Linked DNA regions of Homo sapiens: region 2 is linked to region 1. The links come from fine-mapping of genetic effects on gene expression. A gene starts in region 1. The other region holds a variant in brackets. All regions are shown on one strand. Distances are between the middles of the regions. Region 1 holds the start of EXTL2 (exostosin like glycosyltransferase 2). Region 2 has its middle 53 kb from the start of EXTL2.

Evidence for each region. PIP is the estimated chance that this variant, and not a neighbour inherited with it, causes the effect. A credible set is the group of variants that fine-mapping cannot tell apart.
Region 2: its variant is the best candidate, but not a certain one, in a credible set for the expression of EXTL2 in whole blood (GTEx, PIP 0.60).

Annotation. Positions count from the first base shown.
Region 1 is chr1:100,893,250-100,896,167 of GRCh38, reverse strand. EXTL2 (exostosin like glycosyltransferase 2) reads left to right here and starts at 1,326. Exons shown (of 5, transcript NM_001033025.3): 1 at 1,326-1,535. It overlaps SLC30A7 (solute carrier family 30 member 7), which reads right to left and starts at 78. Exons shown (of 11, transcript NM_133496.5): 1 at 1-78. RefSeq lists enhancers at 1-33, 584-653, 548-1,270, 1,271-1,994.
Region 2 is chr1:100,839,889-100,842,806 of GRCh38, reverse strand. No RefSeq gene overlaps it. Among named protein-coding and RNA genes, the nearest start is that of EXTL2, 53 kb to the left of the region's middle. The variant C/T (reference allele first, on the strand shown) is at 1,310.

The sequences.
Region 1 (2,918 bases):
CCAGCGCTTGTCCGGGGCCGCGCGCCGCTGCGAGACACAGACAGACACAGACACACACCCGGGAATTCGCTTACTTCCGGCCCGGGCCGCGCAACGCGTCCTGGGACAGGAAAGGAGGGAGGCCGGTCGCGGGCGGGGCCTGCGCGGCGGAGGGCGTGGCTTGCGGCGGGGGCGGGATGAGAAAGGTGCTGGAGCTGTTGGAGGGACGCCAGGAGGTGGCAACTACCAGGGGGTGTGAGGGGCTGACCTGGGATGGAATCCTGCCACCCGGACTCAGGAAGAAAATCCTGAGGTGGCGACCTGCAGACTGGGCTGGGAGATGGAGAGCCCGCTCACGCCCACCCGACCGCCTACCACCAGTGTTCCCGGATGCATGGGCTCCAGCGCCTGCCCTTTCGCCATTTCCTCCCAACTGGCATTAAATCCTGGTGTGGTAGATATCAGTGATTAAGAGTCTAGGCAGCCACGTGTTCTATTGCCGCCAGTCCGCAGGAAACGCAAGTGATCGTTTTGCTGCGTTAACTCTATGGGCGCCCAAATCTTAGGAATCCATTCCACGCCACCCCGAAAACAGCGCTTGACCCTTCTGGACTGCCACGCAGGAGGCGATCAATGTTTTTCTTTCTTTATTTTTTTAAGAGACAAGGTCTCGCCCTGTCACCTAGGCTGGAGCACAATGAGGCTCACTACAGCCTGGAACTCCCGGACGCAAGTGATCCTCCTCAGCCTCCGGAGTAGCTGAGACCTCAGGCGTGCGCCACCATGCCTGGCATCAATCAATGTCTTTCAAAATAAAGGCTGTTAAACGTAGTATAGGAAAGAAGCTTTTTAATGGTAGGTTCTACCAGACGTGTTTGTTTGATTTTTAGGTTTGGTTAATGCATTGTTTCCCGTACAATCTCAACCCGCGGAAACCCCGAAACTCTAGAATTCGTGCCGGTCTCTTTCGCTTCCAGGTCATCCCCGGGGCAACGGCCGCCGCTCTAATTCTTGTCAGAACCTCCAGGCCAGTTTCAGCAACGTGCAGGCAGAAGCTGGCCCCTCGGTGGGATGCGAGGGCGTGTGGAGCGCGGGGAGGAGAGCCCCACAGGCCTTTCCTGGGCACCCGCGGTGGATGGGAAGGCTCCTTCGGGCGCCTTTCAGGGAAGTTGTTTGGCTGAGGGAAGGTGGTCCGTCACGTGAATGTTTAAAAGTTGTTACCTTGGAGAAGAAATGGAGGAAAGGATTGGCTTTCGGAGGTGGGCTGGAAACTACAAAACCGAGCTTCCTGGGAATGCCTTTTAGGCCGACAGGAAGTGGAGCGTCACCGAAAGGGAGGGGCGGCCACTCGGGGACTGTCCCTTGCTCCAGGCGCTCACTTTGCGGGCGGCACTTTTTCCAGGTTGTTAATCCAGCTAATGGAGAAGGATAGATGCACGCTACTTGGTTTAGAAAAAAAAACAAAAATGAGCAAACGAGACGCCCCTTCCGTTTTATGATAACTAAGCTGCAGGGAAATAAATCGGCTGGCCCTACTGCAATCTACTGCACTCGAGGTAAGGAGACACAGCAAAATGCTCCAGTATTAGTATTTTTCTTTTTGTAGTGAGGATATATGCATGTTTTGCTCTCGTTCTGAGAACTTTGTGTGTGTGTATGGAGTATTCGGTGGTTTTATTTTTGAAAATATGTACTTATTCTACAATTTTGAAAAATGTTAATTAAAACTGCTGTGTAAAAACAGCTAGGTTTCAGAAGTAAGTTCTGGGAAGAGTATTTTGTATTTGCCTTTGTTAGCGTATATTTCATTCTTTTAATTTAAGTGTAGAAATATTTAAAATTAGTAGCATTTACTCTTTTTTTGGAAGGAAGTTTTTGTATTAGCAGTAGACCTTGAATTTTACTCTACTGCACTGCTGAGGAAAAATTAATTGGGTGCAAACTAGATAGTTTAAAGATAAATAATTCTATGGTAATTGGATTTTTCTCCAAAACGCCCTTATTCAATATGATTTAACTTGGGAGAAGGCGGGAGAAGTAATAGAAATAATTAAATTTCAGCAACTGATTTCCAGCATAATCCTAACTCATCAAGGTCAGCTGCATTTTGAACTTTTTTGTATTCTGCCTTTGAAAATAAGTCCTATATTTTATACTGTATTGCTACAAATCAGAAATCGCTTAAGTGGTTTATGGAGAAACCTACATTACCTCTTTTCAAATAGTTTTGAAATGGGTACGAGAAATTGAAGTTTAATTTCAGTTACATCAGTTTCCAGAGACTCCCAAATTCCCCCACTCCCCATCCCCCAAGATATATGATAGGTATTCCCATGAGGACCTTCTCCTTTCAAAAAGTGATGGTGATGTCTTCACATCTTTCAGTCTTAAAGAGCATAATGACCAAATTTAAAACTAAAGGCATTTTATTTGCAATATAAAAGTGTAGGTGGACACTATTTAAATCAGGAAAAGTTCTATGAGTGAAAAACGTCAGGCTGTGCCTCACTTCTTTTGTCATTGTCAAATAATGTTTGTCCCATATATGTTAACCTATCTTTGTTGTCATATCAAATTTGTTTCTTTCATTCATTCAACAGTCATTTAATGAATGTCTTCTATGTGCCAGGCTCTGTGCTGGGTGCTGGGGATACAAAGCCAGATAAATAAAAAGTTCCTTCCCTGGAGGAATTTTATGGAAAAGAGTAGTTATGAAGAAAGGGGGGGGTTGTGACAGGCAAATCAGTCTCGTCTTTTAGAACTCTGTGATGTTTAAAATTTACACAAGGGATGCCCTTGGAGCAGTGTGAAGGGACAGCTGTCACTCAGTAAGTCTTTCCATAAATACTAAGCCATTCCTTTTGCCCTTTCAATATGTCGTATTGGAAAATCAAAAATGATTCTTCAACTCTGTTCAAATGGTATCTTGCAAGTCACCA
Region 2 (2,918 bases), 53 kb after region 1:
AATCTCTGGGACACAGCTAAAACAGTGTTTAGAGGGAAATTTATAGCACTAAATGTCCACAGGAGAAAGCAGGAAAGATATAAAATCAACACCCTAACAACACAATTAAAAGAACTAGAGAAGCAAGAGCAAACAAATTCAAAAGCTAGCAGAAGACAAGAAATAACTAAGATCAGAGGAGAGCTGAAGGAGATAGAAACAGAAAAAAACCCTTTAAAAAAATCAGTGAATCCAGGATTTGGTTTTTTGAAAAGATCAACAAAAGAGATAGTCTGATGGCCAGACTACTAAAGAAGAAAAGACAGAAGAATCAAATAGACACAGTAAAAAATGATAAAGTGGATATCACCACTGATCCCACAGAAAAACAAACTACCATCAGAGAATACTATAAACACCTCTTCACATATAAACTAGAAAATCTAGAAGAAATTGATAAATTCCTGGACACATACACCTTCTCAAGACTAAACAAGGGAGATGTCGAATCCCCAAACAGACCAAGTTATAAAATTGAGGCAGTAATTAAAAGCCTACCAACCAAGAAAAGCCTAGTACCAGACAGATTCACAGCCGAATTCCACCAGAGGTACAAAGAGGAGCTGGTACCATTCCTTCTGAAACTATTCCAAACAATAGAAAAAGAGAGACTCCACCCTAACTCATTTTATGAGGCCAGCATCATCCTGATACCAAACTCTTTCAGAGACACAACAAAAAAAGAAAAATTCAGGCCAATATCCCTGATGAATATTGATGCGAAAATCCTCAATAAAATACTGGCAAACCATATCCAGCAGCACATTAAAAAGTTTATCCACCACGATCAAGTTGGCTTCCTCCCTGGGATGCAAGGTTGGTTCAACATATGCAAATCAATAAACATAATCCATCACATAAAGAGAACCAATGACAAAAAGCACACGATTATCTCAATAGATGCAGAAAACGCCTTCAATAATATTCAACACCCATTCATGCTAAAAACTCTCAATAAACTAGGCATTGACAGAACGTATCTCAAAATAATAAGTGCTATTTATGACAAACCCACAGCCAATATCATACTGAATGGGCAAAAACTGGAAGCATTCCCTTTGAAAACCGCCACAAGATAAGGATGCCCTCTCTCACCACTCCTATTCAACATAGTATTGGAAGTTCTGGATAGGGTAATCAGGCAACAGAAAGAAATCAAGGGTATTCAAATAGGAAGAGAGGAAGTTAAATTGTCTCTGTTTGCAGATGACATGATTGTATATTTAGAAAACCCCATTGTCTCAGCCCAAAATCTCCTTAAGCTGATAAG[C/T]AACTTCAGCAAAGTCTCAGGATACAAAATCAATGTGCAAAAAGCACAAGCATTCCTATACACCAATAATAGACACAGAGCCAAATCATGAGTGAACTCCCATTCACAACTGCTACAAAGAGAATAAAATACCTAGGAATACAACTTGCAAGGGATGCGAAGGACCTCTTCAAGTAGAACTACAAACCTCTGCTCAAGGAAATGAGAGAGGACACAAACAAATGGAACAACATTCCATGCTCATGGATAGTAAGAATCAATATCATGAAAATGGCCATACTACCCAAAGTAATTTACAGATTCAATGCTATTCCCATCAAGCTACCACTGACTTTCTTCACAGAATTAGAAAAAACTACTTTAAATTTCATATGGAACCAAAAAAGAGCTCATATAGCCAAGACAATCCTAAGTAAAAAGAACAAAGCTGGAAGCATTACATTACCTGACTTCAAACTATACCTCAAGGCTACAGTAACCAAAACAGCATGGTACTGGTACCAAAACAGATATGTAGACCAATGGAACAAAACAGAGTCCTCAGAAATAACACCACATATCCACAACCATCTGATCATTGACAAACCTGATGAAAACAAGCAATGGGGAAAGGAAAGGATTCCTTATTAATAAATGGTGTGGAGAAAACTGGCTAGCCATATGCAGAAAACTGAAACTGGACCCCTTCCTTACACCTTATACAAAAATTAACTCAAGATGGATTAAAGACTTAAACATAAGACCTAAAACCATAAAAACCCTAGAAGAAAACCTAGGCAATACCATTCAGGACATAGGCATGGGCAAAGACTTTAAGACTAAAACACCAAAAGCAATTGTAACAAAACCCAAAATTGACAAATGGGATCTAATTAAACTAAAGAGCTTCTGCACGGCAAAAGAAACTATCATCAGAGTAAACAGGCAACCTACAGAATCGGAAAAAATTTTGCAATCTATCCTGACAAAGGGCTAATATCCAGAATCTACAAGGAACTTAAACAAATTTACAAGAAAAAACCAAACAACCCCATCAAAAAGTGGGCAAAAGTTGTGAACAGACACTTCTCAAAAGAAGACATTTATGTGGTGAACAAACATATAAAAAACACTCATCATCATGGGTCATTAGAGAAATGCAAATCAAAACCACAATAAGATACCATCTCACACCGGTTAGAATGGCAATCATTAAAAGGTCAGGAAACAACAGATGCTGGAGAAGATGTAGAGAAATAAGAACACTTTTACACTGTTGGTGGGAGTGTATGTTAGTTCAACCATTGTGGAAGAGAGTGTGGCAATTCCTCAAGGATCTACAATCAGAAATACCATTTGACCCAGGAATCCCATTGCTGGGTATATACCCAAAGGATTATAAATCATTCTACTATAAAGACACATGCACACATATGTTTATTGCAGCACTATTCACAATAGCAAGGACTTGGAACCAACTCAAATGCCCATCAATAATAAACTGGATAAAGAAAATGTGACACATATACACTATGGAATACTATGCAGCCATAAAAAATAATGAGTTCATGTCCTTTGCAGGGACATGGATGAAGCTGGAAACCATCATTCTCAGTAAACTAACACAGGA